2 separate regions of the Homo sapiens genome follow, and region 2 is linked to region 1. Evidence: fine-mapped expression QTL. A gene starts in region 1. The other region holds a variant in brackets. All regions are shown on one strand. Distances are from middle to middle.

Region 1 (16,103 bases):
CCCCTTGTCCTGTTAGCAAACTCTGAAGAGATCTTTTCACAGAGTTGCACCTGAAGTCGCACAGGAAAAGGGCGCCTTCCCACTCTAGATGCCCTTCTTGTGCAGCTTTCAGGAAGCAGGTTTCATGAGAGGCTAGTGTTTGGTGCATGAGTGATACCTTGTTCAGAATAAAACAGGGGGACAAATATTCTTTTTTCAATTTCTGATCTTTTTTTTAAAATTATTATTTTTAAAAGGGAGATGGGGTCTCACTATGTTGCCCAGGCTGGTCTCAAACTCCTGAGCTCAAGCGATCCTCTTGCCTCGGCTTCTGAAAGTGCTGGGATTACAGGCATAAGCCACATGCCCGGCCTCTGATCTCTTACTATACCACTTTCTCGCTACACCACTGCTGTCGTCTATTTGCTGAATGTGTTACAATAGGAAGCTGTGAGTAGTTTGGTGATTTTCAAACTCGTTTTTAAGGCAAAGAAAAGCCTTTAGTTGAAGGAAATTATATGCATAAGGTGTAAAAATAGAGCTCCCTGTTTGGGAGTGAGTGAAGGTCGACACCTAAGAGCCTGAAGCCCTTTGGCTACCCTTCTCCCCATCCTGTGCCATCGCCAGATGACCTGAGGGAGCCCCGTGGAACCACTAACCAGGAATACTCAATGTGGGCACCCTGGCCCAGCAGATAGGCATCACCCCGGAATGTGTAAGACCTCCTGAATCAGAATCCGCATTTTAACAAGACTGCAGATTGAGAACTTCTGATCTGGAGCCTTTCTAATCACTGACAACATCCGCAGTGGGAAAAGCAACCACACTGGCTCTGAGGGCCACTGTCTATCTTGGCTCTGCCCTGCACCCCAGTCGGGAGCTTTACCACGCCAGCAGACTGGCCTGCGTTCCCATTTCCTCAGCTGAAAGGTGGAAAGAATATTACATTAATGAGGACAGTTCATGTGAGCTTACGCTAGGACTTCATTTAATCTCACAATCTGAAATTAATTCTCACAATTCTGACAACCACGTCAGGAGCACTGTAGACATTACGACCACCCTAGGTTTTAAATATGGAAATGAAGGCAAACGGAGGTGAGGTGAACATTTGTGACTACCCAGCCCTGAAATGGCAGCTTTTCTGACTAAAAATCCAGAGGACTGCCCCCATTTCAGCGCCATCCTCTCAGGGCTGTGGCAGGGGTGACATGCCACAAAGTCATGCTTCCTAAACATCCCTACCGACACAGCCCCCATGGAAAAGAGATGAATGGCTGGCCGGCCGGGCGTGGTGGTTCACGCTTGTAATCCCAGCACTTTGGGAGGCCGAGGTGGGCAGATCACTTGAGGTCAGGAGTTCAAGACCAGCCTGGCCAATATGGTGAAACCCTATCTCTACTAAAAATACAAAAATTAGCCAGGCATGGTGGCGCGCACCTGTAGTCCCAGCTACTCGGGAGGCTGAGGCAGGAGAATTGCATGAACCCAGGAGGTGGAGGTTGCAGTGAGCCAAGATCGTGTCACTGCACTCCAGCCTGGGTAACAGAGTGAGACTCCATCTCAAAAGAAAAAAAAAAAAAAGAGAGAGATGAATGGCTGAGGGTCGATGGGCGTGGCTCGGAGATGCCCACTGCAAAATCTAAACTCTAAATCCCTGGGTTTATTCTTAACAATTTATACAAGTTTTGCATTCACTTCCTCATATAGCTGAGTTTATTTAATATAAAAATAATGTTTCGAGAAACAGAGCTTGAAGCAAAACCAGTGTTTCTGAAAGAAACACTGTTTTTGCTGATCCCAAGCACTCCACCAACACCCTCCAGGGGGCAAGCAACTGAACCTCAAATTGAGAAGCAGGATATGAAGGAACTTGACAAATTGTCCAAGGCAACTCTGAAGTACGGAATTGTTATCTCCAGAAATCCTGACATCACAAATATGACAGTTCTCTCACCCCTGGCCACACCACCGCTCCGTAACTCTCTATGGATTCCTGGATGACAATCTCCTTTCCTGCAAACCGATAATGCTCCTGAGTGTAGCTGGCGTAATCTGTAGGAACAAATTTCTGGAGGCTATGAAGAGATGGTTCTATCTTGTTGGATTCTGTGAAGCAGAAAAATAAAATGGAGTTCATGATTTGTTCAAATCCAGTGCAAAGACACACTTGGTATAATTGCTAAGATGGCATTAGATTGAATGACCTTTACATAAAGAGAAGGGATGATGCTATCAAGGAGAACGGCTGCAAATTGGCACAAAATTGAATTATATGGGGTGATGGGGACATGAAATTTGGATGTGACAGTTTTATCAGATGACAAAATGCCAAAGAATGCTCTGGGCCTTTTCTTTATTTAGGGGAGGACAGAAGATGTGTGGATCGGTCCCCACCCTAAATTTTGCTGATGGAAAAATGGCGAACTTACCAGCAAAATTGCACGAATGAGCTGTCTGGATACAGAGGAACTAGGTAAACACAAACCTGCCTTTTTTTTTTTTTCTTTTTGAGACAGAGTCTCACTCTGTTGCCCAGGCTAGAGTGCAGTGGTGTAATCTCAGCTCACCGCAACCTCTGCTTCCCGGGTTCAAGTGATTCTCCTGCCTCAGCCTCCTGAGTAACTGGGATTACAGGCGTGCGCCACCACGCCCAGCTAATTTTTGTATTTTTAGTAGACACGGGGTTTCACCATGTTGGTCAGGCTGGTCTCAAACTCCTGACCTCGTGATCCACTCGTCCTGGCCTCCCAAAGTGCTGGGATTACAGGCGTGAGCCACCACGCCCCGCCAGACCTGCCTATTTTTAGGTCTTGAAGTGAAGTAACATTCCCACGTGTTGGCTGGAGCATGTTCCTTCAATCTTTCCTACAATTGCTGTTCAAAAGGTAGAGGCCCAGCCAGCCCCACAGCCCTGGGGGAGGATGTCAGCTGAGCTCTGGCTATTAAGTTACTATTGCTTTAAATACTCCTTTAAACCCATGACCCATCTAGCAGCTCTCAGATGGCATATAAAATGAGAGGAAAAGAGCACCTGATCGGGCTGACATCAAGAGATCACAAGTGTTTGCAGGTTTTCCAGAGTGTTTAGGAATAAAAGAGCAGTGAGTCAAAGTGTGTGGAAGAAGGAGCAGGAGCAGAGGAAAAGGTGTTGGTCCCAGCGGGTGGGAAAGAATTAACAGTGCGGAGAGTAGGGGGGAGGAAGGTCAGTTTTGTTTGCACGAAACCTGCCTTTGTGGCCTGGGATATGACTGTAAAATGTTTAACCGGGGGTCAAATATGGGCTTTGGACAAAGGTAGAAGGGGGCAGCCGGTGAACATTGGAAGTGTTTTAATCTGAAATAGCCTCTCAAGGTGGAAGGCAGGAGGAGGTGAATACGAGGCAAAGGGAAGTGGGTCTTGGGAGAAACCTGGTCAGCAGGGCATCCCTCAGGTCGGGGGCAGGGCCTCCGGGTGTTTCAGGTCTCACTCATTCCATACACACTGGAACAGTTCCCTGCCACTGCTCTGCAAATGCTGATAACAGCTCCACAGTAAGTAGAGGGATTTGGAGTGAGCCTTTAGAAACAGTCACAACCATTTGACGATGCCTGTTGAATCTAACTACAAACAAAACCCGGAGCTTGTATTTTATATGTCTGTATATATTTTCATTTAATTTCTCTAGAAATTCATTTTTGTTGTATATTACAAAAGTATCAGTGTGCAGCACACTAAAAAAAAAATGTGAATGAAGTGACTCATTTGTAAATTAGCATCATGGGTGCCTTCAGTTCTTCAGAGTGTTGTTTTAGCCTGTGACTTTGATTTAGTATGTTCTACCACTTTGAAGGAGAATTCTCTGCCCTGACAAAAAAGGTGAGCTTCCAGAAACCTGGGACCTCAGTGAACTTGCAAGACGCCTCTAATAAAGGTAACCAATTCAGTCCTGAGACCTTGTCCTTTGCGGTCACCTGCCCTGGTAGGAGGCTGTAGGGAGATTGTAGGGAAAGGAGGGAGCCCTGTAGCTTTCCCCACCTCTTTTGGGAAGCCACTGACATCTAGCAGAACCCCAGCTCCCAACACAGGGCTGAGAGGCTGGCTCTGAATTCTGGTTTAGAGGCAGGAGGAAGGCCGAAAAATAGGGTGATTAATGTTTAATAACTAGTTCAGCAAGAGGGGAAGAAGCGGTGATTGACAGCGTTTGACGATTGCTCTGGAGTAAATACTCCCACCGTGCCGTTTTCAGAGAAGCAGCATGACTTCGCTGGGGAAAGACGTGCAGTACCTCGCCACTGTGTAGTGTTCCTACCGTACAGACACCACAGACACGATTAACCTCGAGAGCATAGATATTAGGAAGAGGTAATAGAATAATTGATGATGAGTTTTGAGTGTTTATCAACTTTGCTTTTAATATACCTTTGTCTTTAATATAATCTATTTAATCATAAGATTCTAACTTAAATTTAAATGATGGTTATATATAACAATCAGCTACAAAAAATGCTGAAATTCAGGTGCCAGTACAAGCCGTCGCCAGCACACCACTGGGTGGTGGCTCAGAGCATCAGGGACCTGTACCAGCCCCTGCCGGCTTCCCTGCCCTGCCCCACTCTCATCCAGGCCATGCCTGTCCCTCCTTCCAAATGTCACCATCTGGGGACTTATTTTTCTCTAGAGACTAGGAAGAGTAAGTAGGCTGATTTTGAATGGCTCATCATTTCACAGGTAAATAAACTGACAAATATTAAGCTTGACAGCTGCACTTTTCCAATCAACATTGTAAGGAAACATAGACATACACGTATTCTCTCATAAGACCCTGTGAGGTTCTACAACGATAAAGAAACATATGTTTTTGTGCCTGAAATATTTTCATTTATTCTCTGTGCTATTCTGATAGTTTTAGAGAGATCAGATTTTCAGATAAGGTAGAGTTGCATTTTTACGTAAACAATGCAGTAAAAATAGACAACATTCTCATTTATTGGAGTTGGGATACATTTTTTACCACCTTTAATTATGAACACTGTAAATGCTGCATCTTGGCTTTTATTAGATCATTTGTTATGTCTATTATTTATTTACAACTGAATCCATGCCCAGAAATGTAACCCTAAACTGTTACATTGTCCTAACGGGGAAATACAGTTTGATTTATAAAGATTCACTGTATGACAAAGCTACCAAGAATGTATTTTGGTGAAAAGCAGAAATGAACCTAGATTTTTTGTTCTTCTTTTAAGTTCTTGTTACAAAAATACAGCAAGCTTAGATCTATACATAGAAAAAAAACAAATGTGCAAACTTTGATAAGTAATGAAAAACCAGGAATTACTTTTAATAAGTAAATAATGAAAAAACAGGAATTATGTTTATACTTGCAAAACATTTTTCTGCTAAGCTTCATTATAGCAAAAAATCTAATGTTAAAAGGAAATGGAAATTCTTGTCACTGAAATTTACTTGAAGATGTCATCGCCAGGAAAACAACTGAGGAAAACTGTTGAAGTGATGAAGAAGGAGGTTACCTTCTAGGACTCCCCCGGTGCTGTCTTTCTGCGGAGCCCCCTTCTTCTCAGCCTCTAACCAGCCACCCGGGGAGCTGAGTCCTTCCCCCCGGCGCCCAGGCTGCTGCGCGGAGCTCAGACACACGTCCATAGCCGGCTGTCCCAAAGACAGCTGTGCATTGAAAAGCAATCTACAAAAGAACGACTATAATCTACTGACTGACTGTTACTAGTTCAGCACATCTATGATCTACATCGCATGTTCGTAATTAATACAGAATTGGAAATGACTCCTTGTTAGTATGCCCAAAATAATTTTGAATTGTTACACGTATCTTTACCTTATGCAGCAGAAGAGATGTGAGGCTTCTGTGCACTCTTTAATCCCCAGTGTTTTATATAGGTCTACACCTGAAAGGATTAGCATTTGATGAACAAAATCCAGCCAGTGGAAGCCCAAGTTATTTAGGGTAGCATTATCTACCAGTCCTCATAGACACATTACTTTGCTAGAATTCTCTCTCTTTCTCTCTCTCTCTCTCTCTCTCTCTCTCACACACACACACACACACACACACACACGCACAGTCCTAGCAACATTCAATGGAATTCCCTTCAAAAGTTTCAGGAATATCACTGGAACAGAACAGAGGCTGCCCCTGTGGCATCCAGTTGCTGCGATGTGGTTCGAAACGTTAGACTTCCAGTTCACTTTTCAAAGAAGTGGGTGTTGGACAGTTGCACAGACTTGCAAATTTTGTGCTCATTTGCCAAACTCCAGTAGCCACAGGGAGGACATGCCCACCCAGCCTCTGCCTAGGACCCGTATCCAGGCAGCCAGAAAGAACACAAGGATCTACCAAGAGGAAGGGAATGCTTTGGGGAGGAAGAAAGGAGAGCATCTATCCATGAGAAGGGACGGGAGTCAAAGGCTTAACGTTGAATCTGGGGGATTTAGAGCAGAGGGAAGAGGAAATCAGAAAAACTCTTCCAAGAAAAAGTAAGCCATTGTGATTTATTTAACTGAAATAAGGGATAGTCAAAAGGGAAGGAGAAAAATCATGTGCTCATTTGTGAAGCTCAGAAACCCTTAAAATAGAATATAGGTCACACAAAGTAAAGCCTCAGACAAATGGGAATTAAAGAATCACTTGTGATAGGCTACATTCAACCAGGGAGTTGGATGAATGGTGTTTTAACCTGAGTAGATATAAAAGCCCATTTTTGTTTTTGTACCCACCCTCGGTACTCGTTTCTCTGGTGTCACTATTTTGTGTTCTTTATGTCAGTTTCTTTTCACTCAGGATGTTCATCTAGATGTGCTGTGGTCCCATGTAAATCACCTTTCCCACTTTCTTAAATGACTGGGGATAAGCCGGCATTTGTTCCAGCTCTATCGTTCTAATGCTTTCTTATTCCCCAAATGCATCTAGTTCTATGATTGCATTCTGCATCTCTGCAACTTATTTCTTCCAGGTGTCATCAGTCCCTATGAGAAATAGCAAAAAGATAGTCATCAGTACAATTCTACAAAAACCTTTTAAAAACTGATTGCAATGTACGTGAATATATGTGTGTATATTTATATGCATGTAGACACACACATAGACAAACATATGCGTTCATTCTACAAGCTTTAAAATGAAGCAAAGGACGAAGGAAAAAATGTTGATCTCCTTTAATTCTACTATCTAGAGAAAGAAACCTCACCAACTTTTTTTTTTGTATCAACTTCTAGGCTTATTTTTTTTGTATAAACTTTTTTAAAGCTATTTTACTGAAAATGTGACTTGATAGAAACATGTACCTCTTTAACCTAGCATCCTATTAAGAGTTCCTTTTTAGGATGAGTTCATGTCCTTTGCAGGGACATGGATGAAGCTGGAAACCATCATTCTCAGCAAACTAACACAGGAACAGAAAACCAAACACCACATGTTCTCACTCATAAGTGGGAGTCGAACAATGAGAACACATGGACACAGGGAGGGGAACATCACACACCTGGGCCTGTCAGGGGGTGGGGGACTTAGGGGACGGAGAGCATTAGGAGAAATACCTAATGTAGATGATGGGTTGATGGGTGCAACAAACCACCATGGCACGTGTATACCTATGTAACAAACCTGCACATTCTGCATGTGTACCCCAGAAATTAAAGTATAATAAAAATAAATAAATAAATAATTTAAAAAACAGTTCCTTTTTAATACTTTCTTCAAAGCCATCTTTTAGATAGCTGCTTTAAGATATACATCAGAGCTCTATTGCCTGGAGCTAGACCACGGTAGATCAAAGGCTCTTAAATGCTGGACTTACCTGTAGGCAGAGGCTATGTCCAAATCACCCGGAAGCTTTAACATGCGTCAACTCCAGGCTCTGGCAATTCTTGTTTGCAGGTGTGAGAAGGAACCAAGAAGTCTGAATTCCCTGTCTGAGAATTGTTCTCTGACATATGGTAGCTCCTGGCACATAGTAGGTGTTGTAATTGCTGAATTTGTTATTGAGCGAAACTCTGAGTGCCCAAGCAGCCACGGGAAGACTCCAAAGGTTCAGGAAGGGATTGACGGGGGGCAGGGCAGGGAGGGAACAGGGCAGGGACACACAAGTTGTTTTCAAATAGTTGAAGTGCAGCCGGTGAAAAGGATTAGTCCTCCTGCATGGCTTCGGAGGGCACGCTGATGAAGTCAGTTACTGGGAAGCAGATTTGGGCTCAACAGGAAAGAACTTTCTAACAAGTAGAACAATGGAACAATTGATCCCAAGAAGCCTACATAATGGAAAGTGGGCCAGATTTGGAGTCAGAAGATACAAGATTGGATCAAAGGCTCAATAAGGAGGCTATTCATGTGCTGTCACTCGCCTCTCTCTGTCAGGATGGGCACTGCCTTTTTTCCTATGAAATCTGGCTCTCTTGGGCTGTGGTTCTCAAGGGGGAGTCCTCCCCTCTTGCCAAGGGGACATTCAGCAATTTGGGGGAGACATTATTAGTTATCGCAATAGGGGGTGGGATGCTCCTGGCATCTAGTGCACGGAGGATGCTGCAAAACCTCCTACAATGCACAGGACAGCCCCGCACAGCAAAGAATTACCCAGCTCAGAATGTCCACAGTGCAAAGGTCAAGCCACCCTGGGCCAGGCAAAGGATCAGCATTGCCATGAAGGGTAAACCACAATTACCAGCCTAGGTGTCTACTGACTGAGTGATGTCAGGTGAGTTGTTCCCGCCTCCCCTGTGTCTCAGTGTTCTCGTCTATACGGTGGAGGTGGATTTGCATTGATAGAGGGATTAACACAGGACCAACCCTGAGCTGCATCTTCCAAGCATCCCAGAAGCCCCCATCTTACTTAGTCTGGTTTCTCGATGAAGCAGACTCCAAGGCAGGGATTTGAGTGAAAGTATTTTATTTGGGGAGTGTGAATAACACAGCAAGGAAAGTGGACGCAACCCAGGGAAAGGGTGACATCCTGCCACGTGTGTGCCACAAGACCAGCAACAGGAGCAGGCGACCAGAGCTTAACCCCATGGGGAGACACTGGGAAAGGAGGCAAAACACACACTTCAGAATTATTCCACTCCAGCTGCAGAGAGCTCCGGTGGTATTTTTCCAGCAGGACCTCAGCTACACATGCAGAGCAGCAGCCAGGGCACTCCAACACATCTGACACACATGAGCGAGGCCAGGACAGTATCTGCTACAGCTTCATAAGATGCCGTTGCTCCTTTCCAGAATCAACAGGAGCAAGTGAAATTTTATATATCTGAAAGAATCTGGCACAGTGCCAGGTGCTCAGAGGGTCCTCGATAAATAAATGTCTCATATTATCTTGTATGTTGTTCAAACAGAGGGTTGAGTCCACAGGGTTCTTTGGAAGGGTTCTGGATCACTCACCTAATCATATGGAAAAGCTGAGCATCTGAAACCATCCCAATAAACTTTATTCATCAGGGAAGAAGGGAGGGAGAGAAATGAGACTAAAATGAGCTTGCAGCACACGCAGCATGGATCATGAGGTCGGCCTGTTCTCTGACGCACTTCCTTGTTGTTGTTTGTCTGTTGTCTTAGAATCAGATAGACCCTGTTACAAGATTATAGATCCCCTTATCTGCTCTAGAGATAACAACTAGAACCTTATGAAATGTTGTTTTCCTTTGAGATATTCTTTCACGTCCTACATGCCACTAAAACCACCCACATCAGCAGGTCTGAAGGACCCCCCAAGAAGCTGACTCACCAAAGCACACAGGCTCCACATCCTGATAATTTCATCCTCCTCACCCTGACCAATCAATGACCCCAATTTTCCAGCCCCTCATCCTCCAAGATCCCCTTTAAAACCCCAACTCAGAACTCTCGGGGAGATGGATTTGAGGGTCTTCTCCCATCTCCTCACTAGGAGCCCTGCAATCATTAAACTCTTTCTCTGCTGCCTCCTGGCTGTCTCAGTGCATTGGCCTGTTACTACACAGTGGGCATATGAACCTGTTGGTCCTATAACACATCGGCCTTGAGATATAAAGGGTCCAGGGCTGCTCTGGTTCCAGAGATATCAGCAGCAGGAGTTCATGGACCTTCTGTTTAAACATTGCCATTGAAGGTCACAACTGCAGTCACCATCCATCACTGTGTATCTATGGTCAAGATTCAATGTCTAGGGAAAAAGATTCCGAGTGCTCTTAGTCTTAAGTTCACCCCTATAGTCAGGGCTGGGTTGTGGGAAGCCTTGCACCAAACCACGAAGAGCAGGCTGGCAACTCAAAGAAGGGATGCAGGGCCATAACCCATAAAAAGCAAGGGTTATAATAGCCCTCCTACCCTTCTTCTCACCCAGTGCATACATACTTCCTTATTTGCATAAATACAACTTCACAGTGGAGACCCACCCTTTCTACAGTGGAAAATAACCTGAAGTCTCCTCCAGCTATTGCAACTAAAGGCAATGGAGTTGCACTTCCCAAGTCCAAACCTCTAGATGATGTCCATTTCTTCCCTGGCTCCGTTGCTTCTTCCATAACAGGCACATGATCCCAGGGGACCACTGACAATAACTTGATTGGCTGTTTCACCACAGCTCGCCCTGGGCTGCTATTCCTGTTCCCATCCCAGAATATGAATAGGAGACTCATTGATTTCCACATTGATCTTTCCTAAAAGGTCCACAAAGGATGAGATACTGATCAGGCAAATGCAAGACATACCCACCATGCCTACTTATAAGGGAGACTCAGTGGGAATTCCCTCCCAGAGAAGTGAGGGTTTCATTGGAGACACAGACCTTCTTCAAGAACCCTGGAACCACCGACATTCAATGTGTGTGATTTCCAGTGAGTAATGGAGAAAAGGTCAAAGTGAAATCATGCAATTTCATAACTTCTGGTCCCTCAATTAGCTGGTAACACAGTGGCCCAAATGTCAGAATCCTGTCTGTCAAATGGTCCAGGGCTGCTGCAATACCCCCCCGACCCAGCCCTGCACTGGCCAGACTTCTGGGGGAGTCCCCTGAGAGCAGCCGCTGTGACTGCCAGCTGCTTCTATATGGGATGCAAAGACTGAGGCCACTTAGAACACCTGTGCTTCAGGATTTTAAGACAGGATTCTTCCTGCTTTGGATTTGGCTCTGGTAACAATTAAATCCTATACCCACTCAGGTACAGTGTCAAATCTCCACCTGCAGAGAAAGGAATTTTGTAAACTAAAATTTGTCAGACTTGCGAACATGGAAAATATTACTTCTGTTTCATCTTAGATGACCAACATTACCAGTGAAGAAGGAAATAAAGCATAGCAGTAAAATAATCCAATAGGTTTGGAAACAGCAGTGAAGTTATAGTCTTTTTATTTTAAAAATAGCACATGCCTGTCCCTAAGCATTCGAGCCCCAGGCTTCACTGCAGGGGATGGCCTGGCTGTCCATAAATCACCTGCCTTGTAAAGTGGCTCTGATCAAAGGCCAGTGTGTTGCCTTGATAGACTTATATGCACTTTGGAGAATAGACATACTTAGTTGTTCGCTTCTATTTTTTATTTTCTTTCCCCAATCCAGTCCTTAAAACAGATTTCCCCTCAAAGAAATTTTATTGTAATTTTAGAAAAATCTCCAACTGCAACTATGTGTAAATCACAACGGGTAACTGCCAGGTTTCATGTTATCAAAATAGCCAAGAATGCTTTGCAGCTGAGCTATAAGCATGTGATATTAATTACACGGAGGAACGCTGTGCTTGGGAAACAAGTTTGGATGAGAAAGTCTGACACTGAAAATGTGCTTGAAATAAGGGATACTCTGGCAACGACATTTATTCTATTTTCCACTTTAATAAATGATACCTTTCTGCAGCTCACTTTAATCCTCAGATAAATGAAGTGAAATAAATGTATCAGTGTGGAAACACCATATCTTCACAGTGATTCAGCTTTGAAGCTGAGGAGGGGCAAGGATGCCTCGGTTCCTGTTTTACTGTGAGGCCTGGGAAGCAGCAGGAGAGGCTGCCCCATGACTCTGACACCCTACGACTCCCAGCCAGGAGCAGATGCCTCCAACGCTGTCCGTTCTTTCCATAGCGCCGTCCGCTGCTTGGACATGACACTTTTGAGAGGGGACTTAGTTGTCACTAATCATGCTCCGATTTTAGCAACAGCAGTTGACCACTGTTCAGAAAGATCATTTTTTCCCAACAGATTTCTATTAGGAAAGAATGTGTTTACCTGATGGAACTATTCTGGGATGTGCCACAACGCGGAATTCCTTTCATTCCTTCCCCTGTTCTAGGGGAAGGAATGGACTCCATTGGAGAGACGTTCTCCCATGAGGCCATGCTGTCAAGGTTTGGGGGGAAATACTCTGAATTATTTAAATATCTATCCAGGTGAAAAGCAACAGAGAGCCTGTTCCTTGGAAGCTGAGCCCTCCCCCTTTCCAAATAAGTGGCCTAGATGCGCCTCTTCAGCTCTGGGGTTCTGTTTCCTTCGTCTCTGAGAGACATAGCACCTTTCACATACCAACTCCACCAGGTTCTGGAAGGAAATGCCTCTGGGAACTTCTCCAATCTGCTTCTACCCCATTCTCTAGTAAAAAGCAAAGTATTTGGGTGGAGAAATAATGAAGCCATTCAAGGAAGCTGCCTCCATAGCTGCACCTTCTCACGGACAACCACTGCCCCTTGCGTGCAAATCTTATATGACCAAGACAAACGTTTAGGGGACAAACCACTGAGATGCTGGAGGTTTGTTATCACACATACTTCTAGTCTAGCCTGATTGTGTGTGTGTGTGTGTATGTGCGTGTGTGTGCATGCATGTGTGGCTGTGTGCATACTCTTGTCAAATGATTATTCTACGAGCATGAAGAAAAGTACAAGGCACATGCTGCAATATTAGTGGGAGCTGATAAAAGGGGAATTTGTGTGTAATTCCTCCCTTTAACAGACTAAAGAAGAAAAACTATATGATCATCTTGAAAGATATATAAAAAAGTTTGGTACAAGTCAACATCATTCATGGTCTTTTAAAACCAACATAAATATTAGGGGACTTCGGCAGGGCCCAGTGGCTCATGCTATGATTCCAGCACTTTGGGAGGCTGAGGCGGGCAAATCACTTGAGATCAGGAGTTTGAGACCAGCCTAAACAACATGGTGAAACTCGTCTCTACTAACAATACAAAAATTAGTCTGGTGTGGTGGCGGGTGCCTGTAGTCCCAGCTCCTCTGGAGGCTGAGGCTGGAGAATCACTTGAACCTGGGAAGTGGAGGTTGTAGTGAGCTGAGATCGTGCCCTTGCATTCCAGTCTAGGTGACAGAGCAAGACTCTGCCTCAAAAAAAAAAAGTGTGTGTGTATATATATACATATATATATATGTAGAGAGAGAGAGAGAGAGACAGAAAGAGAGAGAGAGACTTCATAAACCTGACAACATGTGTCCACTGAAAGCCCACATTAAATATATTCATTATTTATACATAATACACACATTAAATGGAGGAAAATTACAAAGACAGGAAAAAGACAACAATATCCACTGTCACTGTTCCTATTTAGCATTGTGTAGAAGTCTGGACAGTATGATAAAAGCAAGGAAATGAAATAAGAGCTGTAACAATTGGAAAGGAATAAACGAAGTTTCATGTTTGTAGATGACATGATTTTCCATATAGAATATGCAATAAATTCTATAGACAAACTATTTGGAACTAATGAAGGAGTTTATCAACTGCGTGTAAGATCCTGTACAAAAACAGGATTTTTTTTTTTTTTTGAGACGGAGTCTCGCTCTTGTTGCCCAGGCTGGAGTGCAATGGCGCAATCTCCACTCACTGCAGCAACCTCCGCTTCCTGGGTTCAAGTGATTCTCCTGCCTCAGCCTCCCAAGTAGCTGGGATTACAGGCATGTGCCAACATGCCAGGCTAATTTTTGTATTTTTAGTAGAGACAGGGTTTCACCATGTTAGCCAGCCTGGCCTCGAACTCCTGACCTCAGGTGATCCACCCACCTCGGCCTCCCAAAGTGCTAGGATTACAGCCGTGAGCCACTGCAACCAACCCCAAAAACAGCATTCTTATATACGAACAACAAAAATTTAGAAAGGGTAATTTTTAAAATATGCCATTTGCTATATAACAATAATTCCAAAGTACCATGGAATAAAATATATTGAAAGATGTTACATGAAACTGTCTTTTTCTCAAGATCTTTCCCTGTAATTGATGGAGAGACAGCTTCAAATAAATACTCTCATTGCAGTGGGATAGAGGTAACATGAGCTATCATAAACCACCTGGTTATGACATTTACCAATGACACCTTTCTTTCTATAGCTGATGACTAGATCTTCAGCAAAATAAATCAGAAGCTTTTAGAGCTTCACGTGCTGCCCTTCTCCTTTCCCCTCCCTGCTCTCTTCTGCTCCTTCCTCTCCTTTCCTAGAGCTTAGTCAATGGGCAGCTGGAACTTCTAGCCCTGAGGGTTCTAGGTGCCCCGTAGCCAGGCCTGCAGGCCAGAAAACATCAAATCTCAAGGTGCTGCCACAGTTAATTCATTGGTGTTCTTTTTCTCTCTCTGTCTCCAGCTCTGTTTGCTTTTTGTTGTCTTTCATTACTCAGTTAAAGTTAACTGCCAGTTTCATTTAGTTTTGTCAAAATAAATGGAAAGAAAACCCTGAAGCAGGAGATGAATGTAAACTGGGAAAATCTTGCAAAATCGCAAAGATAGTTCTTGGCGCTTCTGTTAAAGGAAACATTATTCAGCGACGCTCGTTACAGCACAGTGAAGCAGATGTTATTCAGGATCATCAGGGTTGGTGGAGGAACCACGGCAGTGAGGTTTTGTGGTGGGGGAGATGGGGCTTGTGAAAATATATAATTCAAAATCTAAGCTGTTGGAACTTTAAATTATTTTGACCCTTAAAGGAATGTGATTATGGGGCCTGAGTCAGGCAAGCAGGCAGACATAACCCAGGCAACTGAAACCTGTGTTTCTCTGATTAGAGATTAAACTTCTTCCTTCCCTACATTGTTCTATTAAATGTAAATGACTTAAGGGCCTCAGGGAAGACCTCTTCCCTATTCACTGTGGATCTTCATTATAGATTAACTTTCTCCCTACCTTTCTCACACAAAGACTTTATGGCTATCACATTGTCTTAAGATGCAATACTAAATATACTGTTTTAAATTGGAAAGAAAATGAAAACAAGCAGCAAACAAACTGTCACCATTTAAATTGCCGTAACTCATAAACCAGCTTTGTATAGAAAATGTTACAATCCAACTAAACTTCTCTGTTTTCTGCCTATATAAGCAAAAGCTTAATTTTTAACGTCAGAGCGCTCACCTCATTTCTCTGGAGTCTGTGTTTCCCAGATGGATATTCTCAGCTTTTCAAAGCTTAAATAACTTCTTTCAAGCTAGGTTCTAATTCTTTCGATTATTTCAAGTTGACAGGGTCAAGTTCTACCACAGCAGGGGCAAGTAAGAACTTATAGTCAAGGAGCAGGGAGGGGGTCAGTGGATAGAAAATTACTATGAGGTAACATCTGGGTAAGGAGGATTCTGGCTAAACCGACCTAACAGGATTCTTGCTGAAGACAGGTCGGGGTATGAGACATCACCTAGGGGATGGTGGAGGATGAGGAATCTTACCCTGAAGATGAGGAAGATGGAAGATGATCAGATATCAAGGGTTCTGGCTAAACTGACTTAGCAAGCTTCTTGCTAAAACTAGATTTCACAAGGAAGTGCACAGCTAGATCAAGAAGTGGCATGAGGAACCTGGGTCATGCAAGAATTTTTGTCCCTTCCAGAGACAGAGGGCACTGAAATAGATACACTTCTCCCTGAGACAGAGAAAGGTAACCTTCTAAAAGCTCTGGAATGAAAGATGACATTTACAGCTTCTTATCTCTTAGATTTCAAATGCTATTGTCAACTGTAATACAAAAAAAAAAAAAAAAATGGTCTCTCTCTGTCTTCTCTCTTTTTAACAGGTTGGGATTTTGCTTGCGCTGTTGCCCAGCCTGGTTTGCAGTGGCGCAATCATGGCTCATTGCAGCCTTGATCTCCTGGGCTGAAATGATTCTTCCGCCTCAACCTCCCAAGTCTTTGGGATTATAGATGTGACTACTGCACCTGACT
Region 2 (16,103 bases), 60 kb after region 1:
TATTTAGAACATGAAATTCTGTAATACCAATTCCCTTTGCTTGTGTAATTGAGTCTTTAAGAGATTCTTTACTCTTCCCATTTGTTTCTACTAGTAAACAAGGTGCTTTTAGTTGAACAGTGTTGACCATGAAGGATTGTTCTAGCTGAGGTAACATTTTTGGTGAAATGTTTTTTAGTCTTTTGTTTTCTTTGTCATACTCCTTTTCCTTTTTAGTAATATCTGAGATTCCTGTCTCCTCAAGAGGACCTGCATAATTGATTTTCTCTGTATCTGGTGACTTATTTTGCTTCTGCAGAAAATGTCCACATTTTATTAAACCCGGCATGACTTTCACTAGTTGTTTTCTGGAATAATTTTTAACATAAGGCAGAATAAGCTTGGAAACAGAAATAAGATGCAAAGCTATATCTGATATATCTTTCCTTTCATGTAATTCTTTCTTCTCAGTGTTATTCTTGCATCCTAACTCATTCCTATTTTTTAAAGTGTGACATACTGTGATTTGAAATACTTGTGAAGTTGGTGTTTTTTTGGCTTTTAGAGATGGAACATTAAGACTGAGTTTGCTTTTACTGTCTGGTGTTTTTCTTCTATTTTTCTGCCCTTTAATGGTAGACAAAAGAGGCACTGAGCTATATACAGAATCCTGGTTCAATTCTGATGAAACAATTTGTTGCTGGCCTTGTGCTTTTACACTCCTTAGTTGTGGCATATCTTCAGTGACTAAATTTGGATTCAGAGTTAAAACGAGAAATTCAGCATTCTTAAAAATAGTGTCTTGCCCCTTAATTGAATATTTAACCTTGTTTGAATCTATAAACCAAACACAATGTTGGTCCTCACCTAAGTGTTCATCAGACTCCAGGCCCTTTACTGAATATTTTGCCTCAACAATTGATGGAACTTCAACAAAATGTTGGTTCCTATCCAGATCTTGGGACTGGAAGGAGTCTTGTGTGCTGCTAGAAAATGGCTTCTTCATCACATCTTCAGGCTGGGCAAAGTTGCTGGCTTTGCTCTCAGGCTGGCTCTTAATTGATTCTTGGTTATGATTTATATATTGGGCTTGACTAGTAAATTGGACTTCATAAAGACCTTGATTCTGAAAAGCATTTTGTCCTGGAAAAGAATCCTGTGCTTGGACAGAAATAACCATTCCAACAGAAGGTTGATTCTGATTCAAGGACTCTTGAGATCTTGAGCATTGATAAGTAGTTCTGCTCCCTAACTTAGTTTTGGGTTTTGAAGGAATTTGATTCCTCACATTTTCTTCCAGAAGTCTAACTTGATCTCTAGAAAGAAATAAGTGGGCAAGAGGGCAAGGTGCCACATCTAGATCTTCATTTTCTACAGTGAATCTAGATGCTGAAAAGCTAAGATCAGAAGAAAATCCTGAATTTTTGTTTTTGTTGGTTTTCATCATTGAAAATAATTTCTTGGAGGAAAATTGTATTGTTTCATATTCTCTGTCTGGATGCTCTGTATGGCTTAGACACGTTTCCTCTACTTCTGAATAAAACAATGGCAAAGATGAGCTGATTCCATTTGAAGATGGCACATGACTTTCACTAGAGGGACTTACTTGATCTTCACTTTCACTAGTACCTGACCATAGTATTTCACGTGAGAATAAAATTCTATCTTCAAAGTTACATTCCTTTTCTTCAGATGTAAGTGATGAAGTAATTCTTTTTTCTAAAAAGGTGCCAACTCTGAAATATAAGAAAACAGTGTACAAATGAATATTAGAATATATTTCGTATAAGAATTACCTTTAGATTTAAGAAAATGCAGCATAGTATATGAAAACAGATCAGCATAGAGATAAATTGGAAAATCATTATCCATATTACAAAACAATTCATTACCTAGTTCTTCTCACTTAATAAACTAATCGACGGAAAAAGTGAAGTAAATCAATTATATATCTCAGAGACTATACCTCAGCATCTCTAAAAGTCTATTTTTGACAAGATTGGGTCAAAGTTGCTGGATTAAGATTATATTATTTTACAAGGAATATCTTTTCTGTTCTCTATATGAAAGTTTTCACTAAAAGAAAACATTCTTATGGAAATGTAATAGGTACAACAGAAGAATACCAATAGTATAAACTAGCTGTCTATAGATAAATCCAGATTATGTTAACAGTTCTTTGAGATCAAAAGAAAAGCCTACATTTTAGGGAAGCACGTCTCAGTACAATTTTGGGCCGGAGTACTGATCATGGATGATGTGAACTTGCCAACACCCATGTACCTCAAATGATTAGTCTCAGTCTAAGAAGTGCTCAGACCAACAGCATCAGCATCTTCTGGTGTGATGGTTAATTTTATTTGTCAGTTTGGCTGGGCAGTGATGCCCAGAGATATGGTCAAACATTATTCTGGATGTTTCTCCCAGGGTGTTTTGGATGAGATTAACATTTGTATCAGTGAACTGTGAGAAAAGCAGATTGTTCTTCCTAATGTGGGTGGGCATGATCCAATCAGTTAAAGGCCTGGATAGAACAAAAGACTCATACCTCAACCCCCTGACATACTCCAGCAAGAGGAAATTCTGTCAGCAGACAGCCTTTTGACTTAAACTGCACACTTTAGGCTTGCAAGTCACCACAATTGCTTAAGCCAATTATTTAAAATAACTGTCTTACTCTCTCTCTTTATACACACACACACACACACACACACACACACACACACACACACACACATATCCTACTGGTTCCGTTTCTCTGGAGAACCCTAACAATACACCTGGAAACTTATTTGAAATGCATATTCTTTGGTCCCATCCCAGCACTGTGGAATCTGACGTTTTGAAGGTGGGGTCAAAAAATCTGAGCTTTAATAAACTCTCCAGCTGATTCTGATACATGATAAATTTCGATAGTCACTGTTTGATGCATGAGCAAGCCTAAAATCAAAAACTGAAATGCATATAAAATAGGTCAGATAATTCTAGTAGCTATTTGTTTGGAGAACACAGATTATCTCTTACTTTACTGTAAGTGTGACTTTACTTTTAAATAACCCTCAATCAAAATAGTGAAGGCAGTATATGAAATCCATCATGATCTACCCAACCACAAAAATTATTTGTGCTAAATGATTACTTGTAGAACTGAGAAATAAAAATGAAATGCTAAGTCCCACAAATGACTGAATGGACATCCTCTTGACCAAGGGGACCCCAAAGGAATCTTGAAAAATGAATTCCTGACCATGATGGGATGGGAGGTCAGACAGGCCTTATTATACCACCTCCCTGCCTCGCTACCATTAGGCTTTCTTTCCTAAGGGTAAACAGAACAGCCCTTTGGAAAGGCTTGCACCACCCTTGATATCAACCAATGACCAGATGCTGCCCCTCCCTTTCGCCTTCAACAAAGCAACCAGCCAGCATTCCTTCCTGATAAGAGACTACCAACCACAGAGTGGTTCTGCCCAGTCTAGGAAGGATGTGCAGTGGGGGTTTTCATGTCCCCTGCTTCACCTTTTGATGTCAGAGGACCAAAAACTCCACCCTCGGATCATGCTAAAGCTGCCATTTTTTGAACATGAGTTCCATGGAGAGGAATGAAGCTCAATTGCTCATGCACACATTTCTCCTTTCATAAATATTCATGACTCCTCCTACAGCTTATTGACTATGAGTATTATCCACCTCGTTCAGCATGATTTCCTGTCTTATTCTTCCTGCCCTCCAATGGCCTGTTTCTGGCTTCTGACAGGAGGCTACACTTCCCAGTCTGTCAGAATGGCTACCCTGCAGGCTGCAACCTTTTATGAGCGCCATCATTCTTTTCAAAACACCATCATTCTTCAGTTGACACAATGAAATCTCATTAATCTGGATTTGGTTAATTAGAATTTGGGGTATTTTAGGCTACACTAATGATTTTGTTTTTTCATCGATAACACAAAAATATTAGGTAAATATTTAAAATATGTTAGTTTTCAAGTTCTCTCAAATTTTAGAGCACTTATTAACCTCTAATATATAGGCTATTTTATGGGCTGAATTGTGTTTCTCTAAAATTCATATGTTGAAGTCCTAACCGTAGTACCTCAGAATGTGACCATATTTGTAGACGTGGCCTTTAAATAGGCTATTAAAGTTAAATGAGGTCATATGGGTAGGCCTTAATCCATATTTGGAGATAAGGCCATCAAAAGATGATTAAATTAACTGATGTTAGTTAACTTATTTATAACTGATTAAATTAACTTATTTAGAGTGGGGCCCTAATCCAATATGACTGGTGCCCTTGTAAGAAGAGGAAATTTGGACACAGAGACACCATGGACATGCATATACAGAGAAAAGAGCATGTGATGCACATGCGTGTTTATTGCAGCAATATTTACAATAGCAAAGACATGGAATCAACCCAAACGCCCATCAATGATAGACTGGATAAAGAAAATGTGGCACATATACACCATGGAATACTATGCAGCCATAAAAAAGAATGAGTTAATGCCCTTTGCAGGGACATGGATGAAGCTGGAAACCATCATTCTCACCAAACTAACATAGGAACAGAAAATCAAACACTGCATGTTCTCACTCCTAAGTGGGAGTCTAACAATGAGAACACATGGACACAAGGAGGGGAACATCACACACTGGGTCCTGTCAGGGAGGTGAGGGGCACAGGGACGGAGAGCATTAGGACAGACAAATACCTAAAGCATGCTGGGCTTAAAACCTAGATGACGGGTTGATAGGTGCAGCAAACCACCATGGCACATGTATACCTATGTAACAAACCTGCACATACTGCATATGTATCCCAGAACTTAAAGTAAAATTAAAAAAAAAAAAAAGAAAAGAAAAAAAAAAGAAAAGAGCATGTGAGGACACAGCAAGAAAGTGGCCATCTGCGAGTCAAGGAGAAACACCTCAGGAGAAACCAAGCCTTTCAGCCTCCAGAACCATGAGAAAATAAATTTCTGTTCTTTAATGCCACCTAATTTGTGATACGTTGTTATGGCAGCCCCAGCAATCTACTACAGACTGTATACACATCTTTGTTATCTGCCCATTACTTTTAGTATATAGTCTTTGGTAGTAAAGTCTATTCTTCAACTAAGACAAAATTTTGCGTTGGATGATCATGATGTCTACTCTCCAACACCTGTTCTACCTCAGATTATTAGGCTCAGTCTAATATAGTAATCCCATTTCTGAGTGATTAGTTTAGGAATGGGCATGATCTAATCCTAATATAAGAAAATGCTGAAGCAGGCTGGGCGGGGTGGCTCACGCCTGTAATCCCAGGTCTCTGGGAGGCCGAAGCAGGTGGATCACTTGACATCGGAGTTTGAAACCTAGCCAACATGGTGAAACCCCAACTCTACTAAAAATACAAAAAGTAGCTGGGCATGGTGGCATGCACCTGTAGACCCAGCTACTCGGGAGGCTGAGGCAGGAGAGTTGTTGAACCCAGGAGATGAAGGTTGCAGTGAGCCGAGATTGTGCCATTGCACTCCAGCCTGGGCAACAGAATGAGACTCCATCTCCAAAAAAAAAAAAAAAAAAAAAACCCTGAAGCAAACCATTTCCCAAAATCCAATAATCCAATGTAAGATCAGCAGTTTGCTTTGCTCACTGAGACTATGCCTGGTCAGCACAGTTCTCTCTAATTTCTCATGTCACCTCCTGACATATAATTTATTTATTATGTTGTCATTTATTGTCTGACCCTGTCTCACCCCCACACCCTGTTTTGTTTGCTGATGAGTCTCAAGGGCCTACAGCAATGCCTGACACAGAGTAGGCAATCAATAAGTATTTGCTGAATGACCATCTCCACCTCCAGGCTTCTGATTGCTAACAACAAACTGACCCAACTCTTTCCTCAATTTCAGTGAGAAAAAAATCCCTCATACACAAACCACTCATATATGTTTAAAATCATGTGACTGATTTTAGTGAAGACTTGGAAGCAGAAGCAGGAGAGAGTTGACTACAGCCATGCATAGGGTTCCCATTTAAACATTAGGTACGTCTCCCCATTTGTGAGATGTCCTTTGGCCTCTCCCCACCAAGGAATCTTAATTGGCCTTTGAGATTTTAAAAACAACTCCTCATTCTCTAGGAAAAGAGTAACAGTTCTAGAGCCATGGTAACCAATAGCAGAACCAGTTGTAAATCAATCAATGGCAATCCTATAGTCATAGTAACAAATAAACAGAGTCTTCTTTTAAACTGTTTTATCTATCAACGATAACTCCCTTCAGGAAATGCACTTCTGAAACCAACCAGTCAGTGACAAGTTTAAGCTTTGAAAGTCAGGTGGTTGGTGGCAGACTCTCACTCAAGCATGCATCTATGGGTAAGGCCAACCCTAAAACAAACCATACCCCAAAATCTGATATAAGGTCAGCCATTTGCTTTGCTTACTGAGACGATACCTGGTCAGCTCGGGTCCCCGGATTTCAGATACTGAGTGGTGGTCTCATCCTTTATGCCACTCAGTCCTAAGCCTCACACCACTACACCTGCAACTCCCTCTGTTCTGCTCCTCTCTGCCCCCCCAGCTACCCCCTTTCTCCTTTGTCTCATTTCATAAGCAAGATAAAATCCACTCCATCTCTAATGCAGTAGATTTTAACCATTCTGATGCTTAGCTTCGGCCAATATACCCTTCTATTTCAAAATAATTTATTAAGATGCTGTCCCACTATTTCCAATAGCAAAGACATGGAACCAACCCAAATGCTCATCAATGATAGACTGGATAAAAAAAATGTGGTACATATACATCATGTAATGCCATGCAACCATAAAAAGAATGAGATCATGGCCTTTGCAGGGACATGGATGAAGCTGGAAGCCACCATTCTCAGCAAACTAACACAGGAACAGAAAACCAAACACCGCATGTTCTCACTCCTAAGTGGGAGCTGAACAATGAGAACACATGGACACAGGGAGGGGAACAACATATACCAAGGCCTTTTCGGGGATGGGGGACGAGGGGAGGAAACTTAGAGGACAGGTCAATAGGTGCAGTAAACCACCATGGCACACGTATCCCTATGTAACAAACCTACACGTTCTGCATATGTATCCTGGTTTTTTTTTTTAGAAGGAATTTTAAAAAATTAAATGAAATAAAATTATTTGAAGGTGTCAATGGTTAAAAATAAAAAAATACTATGTTCATAGTTCTTTTCCCAAAAAAAGTTTATATATATATGTATACACATATATATGTGTGTGTGTGTGTGTGTGTGTGTGTGTGTATATATATACATATATATATATATATATATTTTTTTTTTTTCCTTTTGAGCTGGAGTCGCTTCGTCTCCCAGGCTGGAGTGCAGTGGTGCAATCTCGTCTCACTGCAACCTCTGCCTCCCAAGTTCAAGCCATTCTCAGCCTCCCAAGTCATTGGGATTACAGGCGCATGCCACCACAGCCGGTTAATTTTTGTATTTTTAGTAGAGATGGGGTTTCACCATGTTGTCCAGGCTGGTTTCGAACTCCTGACCTCAGTGATCCGCCCACCTCAGCTTCCCAAAATGCTGGGATTACAGGCGTGAGCCACCGTGTTACACATACTATTTCAACTATTCTTCATGATATTCCTAAGAGGTAATTCTTCTAATCCTTAGTTCGAAAAAAAAAAAAAAATGGAGGTATAGTGAGTTAAGTCATTAGCCCAAGGCCATGCCATCATTAAGAGGTAGAACTACAGGGCCAGGTGCAGTGGCTCACGACTGTAATCCCAGCACTTTGAGAGGCCCAGGTAGGTGGATCACCTGAGGTCAGGGGTTCGAGACCAGCCTGGCCAACATGGTGAAACCGCATCTCTACTAGAAACACAAAAAATTAGCCAGGTGTGATGGTGGGTGCCTGTAATCCCAGCTTCTATGGAGGCTGAGGCAGGAGAATCACTTGAACCCAGGAGGCGGAGGTTGCAGTGAGCTGAGGTCATGCCATTGCTCTCCAGCCTGGGCAAAAAGAGCAAAACTCTGTCTAAAAAAAAAAAAAAAAAAAAAACAAAAAAACAAAAAGAGGCAGAACTATGATATAAAGCTAGACCTTTTTTAACTTCAAAATTTATGTTTTTTCACCATAATATGCTGCTGCCACAGGAGCCATATCTTTTCTCTAATCCTTTTTCTTCAACACCACCCCCTAACCTCTTCTTCTCCATGAATTTCCCTTAACGCCCCCTAGAAAGATGCCACCCGAGGATTAACTTCTGTCTAGGCAGGAAGGGAATAATAGGACACGGGGATGGAAAATCTTTAAAGTGTCCTTGATTCTGAAGCTAAAAATCCTTTTTTTCTCCATGTCTTCTTGTGAATTCCTCTTGCCTGTTAATCCTCTGGTTTTGAATTACATGTGAACCTTGGGTCACCATGCACACCTAAGCCCTCTAATATCTCAAATGCTGAATCTTGGTCTGTCCATTTGGACTTATTCTGATTGCACTACTGACATGCTGTAGCTTGTGCTGGCATTCCTGTTTCCAACTGGCCCTCACAAGGGTTCTACCTACTCACACCTCCAGATATTGTTACAGCTTCCCAAGACACTCACCTGAGAACTAGTGTTGCTAGTACCCAATACAACAATATAGCAACCAGATTAAATGAATAAAGCCCTTTTATACCTGACAAATGAAAGAAATTAGACGAACATCAAGTAATCCTCTGATTCACACAGTGACTAGTGATCTAGCTGAAACACAAAACTGCCACTCTTATGTGTAACCACCAGTAGTGGTTATTATCTACAGAATTGAATCCAGGTCTTAACATGGTATAGAAAGCCGTTTATGACCTGACTCCTACCTACCTCTTCACATTCATCTTCCACTACTTCCTGACTCAACCTCAACATTCCAGCAACTCTGAAATAATAGTAATTTCTTGCACATTGCTGCTGTTTCTGTTCATGTCCTGGAATGTCTTTCTTATCCTCCTAAACCTCTGTCCTTTTCGGGCTAATGTTCATTCATCCTTTAAAATTCAGCTCCAGGATAACATTCTTCGTGAAGCCATTCCCAATGCCCTAGGCTGGCTTAGGTATCTCCTAAATATATTAATATTTCTGTCACTGTGTCACCATACCACAGGGCAACTTTCCTGTATGTATACATCTTCTCCACAAGAATATAAGCTTCTTGAGAACAGAGACTATATTATGGTTTGAATCCCAGTGTTGGCGTCCACTATATTGTAGATATCTAATAATTGTTGAATGGATTTCAATTAAAACAATTAAAATATTGATAGCATCAAGAGTTGTGATTATGTCAGTATTTAATCCCTAGCACGGAGATAACTTTACAATTCTGATAAATTCTGATTTTACAAACTCCTTTCATGTCACTCATGCAGCACCTAGCTCAGTGTTTGCTTGGTCCACAGTAAGTGCTAAATAAATATCTTTTCAGTTGAAATATAAGAACTGGTGTGTTGGAGAGAGAGTTAGAGTAGGAAAGCAAGTCACTTATCCTCTTC[A/G]AGCTTTATTTTCCTCATCTGTAAGAAACTACCTGCCTCGAAGGATAATTTCAATAATATACGAAAAGTCCTTAACACAGCTTGGAGCATAGCAACAATTTAAAGTAAATGTTAGATTGAATCATGATATTGAACAGCTAGGAAAACCCTTCTCTGAAATTCAGAAGTAAAGGCAATTTTGAATAGAACACAACCAACCTATTTCATTTAGCTTCAAAATATTTTTGTGATATATCACATACCTTTCTCCTGAAGATGAATTAATAACTGACCAATTCTCTGGAGCTGAATAGGAATAAAAAAGTCACAGTATCAATGAGAAAAGCTCAGGATGAACAAGTTTTATATTAAAATGTGAAATTGTATAATACTTACCAAGTTTCCTGCTTTTGGGGCAACTGTCTTCCGTCTATTTTAATGGAAAAAAAATTGTTAGAGGAGTAATCGGAGTATCAAAATTCAAAAATTTTACAAATTATTCTTATGTCTGATTTTGAAAACTAGGAAAAGGGGAAATCAACCATTTATTCTTACCTCCTGGACATCTGAACTACCCTTTTCAGGAAGTGTGGGCTTCTTCCAAAAGGATGCACAAGCTTTCATGAGTATTATCTCAAAAATAATTCCTAGTAAAATTATAAAGAAAATTGCCACCCAATCATTTTGAATAATCCAGGACTCTAGAAAGTCCCATAATGTCATGAATGTATTATCTTCCAGTCCACTCCCTACCCCTTTTTTAAAGGAATAATATTGCTTTGACATTTTAATGTCATATGTGAAAGAGACTGGTGTCTCATTCAGAAGTCCTTGATTTCAGAGGCCCTGAAATATAAAACCTCGGTATGCCCAACTCATAACCATGTGCAACATTTGGCCAGTGCTGCTGGTATCTTATCAAGTGCAGCAGTGATTGCTCTGGGCCTAAGTTAAGTGAGGTACGTGTCATAGTGGGTATTTAACTGAGCTCATATTAGCTTTAGCAATAATGGAAGTTCATAGGTAAGATATGTACACTGTATAAGTAGTTTTTTACTAAAATTCAAAAAATTACCTTCTCTTAACTTCATAGATAGCAACATAATTCTATCATGGATTGTTGCTGCCCTATTATAAATATAGAATAAATTTGGATTGGTAGAAAGCATTTGACATAACCATTTCTATTAACACCAGGAACAATGTATTTTATGCTTCTTTGTGGTAAGGAAAATATAGTCCTTTCTTAGAATGAATATAGATAGAGTTGACAGGTTTAGCAAATAAAAACATTAGATGCCCAATTTAATTTGAATTTCAGAGAAATGTCGAATAATTTTTTTGGTCTAAGTATGTCCCATTACAACTATGTAGAATGTATGATGACTTGTCTTTTATGAGTCTGATTTTTTTCTTAAAATAGAACACATTTTATATTTCTTTTTGCTAGCAGGGTCTGTTGGCACCATTTCCCTTCAACAATCTATTGACATGCTGAAAACTAAAGTGTCTTTGGAATAACCTCCTGGTGAATTTCCTTTTCACCCTGTCTACAGTGATTTCAGGGAGCTACTTGTGATGTCCTTTCCGATGTCAGAATTAAGGGTAGGGCAGAGGCAGATGTAAGTACAGTACTGCCCACTCCCCTTCAAAGTCTAGTGGGTAGGCCTGGAAGCTTATTGAGCAAATATGATTTTAGTCACAAGTAGACAGGATAGTCTGGACTAATAATGAAAAATGTTAACACTACCTTGGATTTAGAGTACTCTTCCTTTGAAGGTGTAATTAATTAATACTTCCTTTGCAGATGTAATTCATTAATGCTTCACTTTGGTTTTGTTTTAGTACTTCACTTATCCAAGGTAGGTTAAGCAAAGAAGTATTATTCATTACACTGAAGTATTATTCATTACACTGAAGTGAACAGTTCAGGCCTCTTCTGTCACATCAGTTTAAATAAGTACAACAAAGATTTATGACTTCAGCTGGGCGAAGTGGCTCATGCCCGTAATCCCAGCACTTTGGAAAGCTGAGGTGGGTGGATGGCTTGAGCCCAGGAGTTTGAGACCAGTACTAGGCAACATAGGTGGACCTCCGTCTTTACCAAAAATTTAAAAATTAACTAGGCATAGTGGTGTGCACCTGTAGTTAGTCTCAGCTACTTGGGAGTCTGAGGTGGGAGGATTGCCTGAGCCTGGGAGTTGAAGGCTGCAGTGAGCCATGATCCTGCCACTGCACTCCCATCCTGGACAACAAAGCAAGACACTGTTGCAAAAAAAAAAAAAAGAAAAGAAAAAGAAAAAAGAATTATCAACTCTTACTGTCCCTGAACATTGAAGATCAAGAGATCAATGACATTCTAAATGTTGGAATTTACAGTCTTCCAGTCTCCTGGACCACAATGTACAGGTATTTCTAATCTTTATTTAAGTATAATTCTTATCTTGAATTTTGTCTTCGCAAAGAATCGCCCTTTAGAATGCTTGGTAGGTCTTCATTGGCTCTGAAAGAAACTTCAGCAATTCCTCTTGATTTTTCTAGAACTATGGTAAAGTACACCTTCCCCGTACTCCCCTGCCCACAAAGACAATTGAGGTGATTTTAGTCTCCTGGGTTTCCCCATAAAATTCAAGCAGCTGGGCCAGGCGCAGTGGCTCATGCCTATAATCCCAGCACTTTGGGAGCCCGAGGCAGGTGGATCACCTGAGGTGAGGAATTCAAGACCAGCCTGGCCAACATGGTGAAACCCCGTCTCTACCTAAAAATACAAAAATTAGCTGGGCATGGTGGCAGGTGCCTGTAATCCCAGCTACTCAGGAGGCTGAGGCTGGAGAATTGCTTGAACCCGGGGAGGCGGAGGTTGCAGTGAACCGAGATCACGCCATTGCCCTCCAGCCTGGGCAACAACAGCAAAATTCCATCTCAGGGGGGAAAAGAAAAATTAAGCAGCTGGAAAAATACTGTTACTCTCACCTACTTGCAGAAACTCTCTAAATCATTTAATGGTAACTATCTTAAAAGGGATTCATTGTTTCAACATTTTCTTCTCTCTAGTTAATAGATCTTTCCAAGCTTTATGGTACTGAATCCCTAATTAGCATTCCACTGAAGAGCTCTTAAGGAACTGAAAAGGAACTGCTGCGTACCACTCCTGCTGATGGGTAGGTTTACATAGGGGTAAGTATTATCCCTCTCCAGGGCTTTGTCATGTTTGTTACTTATGTACTTGCTACTAACAAAAGTATAATTATCTATTTTTCAGCATAAATGCTTCTGTCTCTTGGACTAGAAACCTCTCAGACCAATGTCAAGTGAACAGCATCAAAAGTAAATGCTAAGCAAGATTTACTTGCTTACAGAGTAAAAAGAAAAAGAGTATCAGAGAAAGCCTATTACAGTAGTAAAACATAGACACTACGAGAAAACACAATGAAAATTCTATTAAAGTTTTTTTTAAAACTTCCTATTATATTTACCAATGTTACCATCTTTGAACTATCTTGACATTATGAACTTGGTTTTTGTTCTTTACTTAACAGGAAAAAGTCCCAATATTAGATATATAAAACAGCAACATAAAGCCAGATATTGTTCAAAATTGTTAGAAATTCTTTCTGTAAATATCTTAGTTTAATACATGTGTTGAATAATAAATGTGTAAAGCACTGAACAAGGAACAAAAACGTGCTTTAACACATTTTGTTAACGTTTTGTTAACATCTTTGTTAACATTTAACAATGATGAGGAAAAAAAATCCCAAACTTGAAGGAATTTGTAATGTAAGTGAGATGGAGATATTAATAACTTAATGAGAAGGTAGAGTTCGGTTAACACAGAAAGGACGAAGATATTACAGGGGTTTGAGGTGAGATGCTTGGTTTGGGGTAATTTCAAGGAAATCTGCAAAGAGGGGAAAAAAATCCCCCCTACTCATTTGGATTTGGTAGCAGGCAAAGATGAACAAACAAAGTAGGAAGAAGAGTAAGAAATACTTCTTCCATTTTATAAACATTTATATAGTCCATGTTAGCTATAGCACGGTTACAGGTGTGAAGTCTGGGAAAAGAAGGCTAAAATGTTGACAGAGCCCTACTGTGGAGCCATCTTCGGAGATCTAACAGTTTTTGAGTTGGAAGTACCAGCTGGTGTATCAAAGCAAGGTGACAATAAAATTGGAAAATCAATTAGGCTACTGCACTGATAGATGAGAATTGATAAGGGTCTGAATTAGAGTAAAAGACTGAAACCCAGGATTTAGCAACTAAAAGAAAGCAAGTGGCTGGGTGTGGTGGCTCATGCCTGTAATCCCAGCACTTTGGGAGGCTGAGTTAGATTGCTTGAGCCCTGGAGTTCGAGACCAGCCTCGGCAACAAAGCAGGACCCTGTTCTCTACAAAAATATTTGAGACCCCGTCTCTCTAAAAAAAGATAATTTTAAAAAGTAGCCAGGTGCAGTGGCAGGCGCCTGTAGTCCCAGCTACTTGGGAGGCTGAGGCAGGAGGATCCCTTGAGCCCAGGAGTTCAAGGTTGCAGTGAAGTATGATAATGCCATTGCATTCCAGTCTGGGTGACAGAGTGAAATTCTGTCTCAGAAAAATAAAACTAGGCCAGCGCGGTGGCTTTTGCCTGTAATCCCAGCATTTTGGGAGGCCGAGGCGGTCGGATCACTTGAGATTAGGAGTTCGAGACCAGCCTGGCCAACATGACGAAACCTGTCTCTACTAAAAATACAAAAATTAGCCAAGTATGGTGGCACACACCTGTAATCCCGGCTACTCAGGAGGCTGAGGCACGAGAATCGCTTGAACCCGGGAGGCGGAGATCGCGCCACTGCACTCCAGTCTCAAAAAAAAACACAAAAAAAACAAAAAACAAAAAAAAAACCTAACATAATAAAAAAAAGCAAATGGATCAAGGTGGGGGATGGAAGAGTTCATGGTGAGGGAGAAAGGACTTACAGATAATCCCAAATCTGGTTTGTCTAAGATGAGGTTTCCCAACGTGGGCACTAATTGACATTTTGGACAGGACATTTCTTTGTTGTGGCTGCAGTACTGTGTATTGTAGGATGCTTAGCAACATCCCTATCTTCTACCTACAGAATGCCAGTAGCACCCCAACCCTAGTCGTGACAAAAATATTTCCAGACATTGCCAAATATCCCCTAAGACAGGGGTCCCCAACCCCCGGGCTGCAGACCAGTACTGGTCCGTGGCCCACTATGAACCAACAGTAGGCAAGCCAGCATTACTGCCTGAGCTCTGCCTCCTGTCACATCAGCTGTGACATTAGATTCTTATAGCAGCAGGGAACCTTATTTTGAACTGTGCACATGGGGGATCTATAGGTTGTGCGCTTATGAGACTCTAATGACTGATGATCTGGGATGGCACAGTTTCATCCAGAAAACATCCCTACCCCCGCCACTCCCAACCCAGTCAGGTGGAAAAATTGTCTTCCATGAAATGGGTCCCTGGTGCCAAAAAGGTTGGGGACCACTGCCCTAAGGGGTAAAGGTCCCCCCTGGGTGGGGAGCATTAGTCTAGGTGAGTGTTTATGAGGCAGGAGAACAGGGTCTGGAGGCAGAGAACCTAAGACCAATTCACCCTGACTTCCTACAACTAAGTTGATAGGAAAACCCCAACTTTCCATGCCTAAGTAACAAAAAGACCAGAGGCTACTCCCTTTGCAAACCCACACCTTATCTGTGCAGCAGATAGAAAATTGAAAGTTGGTTGCAAAATTGGTTGCTTTCTGCAAACAGACATTTGCATGGGAGTGTAACTTTGTAACTTCACTTCAGCCTCTGACTGGTTGCTTTCTGCAACCAATCAGACTGACTGTGGGCCACCACTTCATTTACATGGGGTGAACACCCAGGTAGACAATGGGAAACCTCTAGAGGGTGTTTGGGCCCCAGAAGATTCCTTTTCCAGGGTCCTTGAGCCGCTGCTTGGGCCCACTCCCACACTGTGGAGTGTACTATCATTTTCAACAAATCTATGCTTTCTTTGCTTCACTCTTTCCTTGCTTTGCTGTGCATTTTGTCCAATTCTTTATCCAAAACGTCAAGAACCTGGACAACTTGCAGTCAAGACCCCCTCAATAACAGCTATGCCATTAATTAGGGCCTACCAGAAGAGGTGCCAGAATGGCTCTTTGATTATAATCTCAAACTTGAAGGGGCTGAACATTTTCCTGCAAGGCGTGGTAAATCTATGGAGGAGAGCAGATGTGACCTTTTCCTAAATGTTCGTTTCTGCTGTGGATACATCATTCATCTTTCTCTAGGAGTTCTATGTTCCCCAAATATGGCTAGCTATACAGTCCTCAAATGTCAAGCCATTACATCAATAAGGAACAGTAGTTTCTTATAGAAAACTCAGGGGAAAATCAACTTTAAATGATCATCTACCTACATTACCCCTATATTTGATGTAGTATCTTTGGTCATCATATTATGCCTATAGTTTAATTTTGCAAACGCAAATATTGTAAATTGTATAGCCTGGTCAGTAGCCTTTTAAATGTTTTGTTGTACTCTAACATTATGTAATAAGTTGTCTTTTGTGTTTTCCTTGTCCTGTTAGCTTTACTTCTGGTTCACAATACTTATGTTCTTCAATGACT

Which allele goes with the higher level. Alleles are on the strand shown, and positions count from the first base shown. SD is a standard deviation of normalised expression in the study named.
As copies of A replace G in region 2, the expression in skeletal muscle of the gene that starts at base 6,168 in region 1 goes down (moderate effect, 0.58 SD a copy in GTEx).

The links. PIP is the estimated chance that this variant, and not a neighbour inherited with it, causes the effect. A credible set is the group of variants that fine-mapping cannot tell apart.
Region 2: its variant is the best candidate, but not a certain one, in a credible set for the expression of METTL21C in skeletal muscle (GTEx, PIP 0.56).

Annotation. Positions count from the first base shown.
Region 1 is chr13:102,688,877-102,704,979 of GRCh38, forward strand. It overlaps METTL21C (methyltransferase 21C, AARS1 lysine), which reads right to left and starts at 6,168. Exons shown (of 4, transcript NM_001010977.3): 1 at 5,493-6,168; 2 at 1,937-2,088. The coding sequence starts at 5,622.
Region 2 is chr13:102,748,674-102,764,776 of GRCh38, forward strand. It overlaps LRTM3 (leucine rich repeat transmembrane protein 3), which reads right to left and starts at 10,399. Exons shown (of 4, transcript NM_001146197.3): 1 at 10,029-10,399; 2 at 9,870-9,903; 3 at 9,737-9,779; 4 at 1-1,715. The coding sequence starts at 10,259. It overlaps LOC105370337 (a long non-coding RNA gene), which reads left to right and starts at 10,981. Exons shown (of 3, transcript XR_931685.4): 1 at 10,981-11,882; 2 at 12,528-12,634. RefSeq lists a silencer at 6,269-6,490. The variant A/G (reference allele first, on the strand shown) is at 9,495.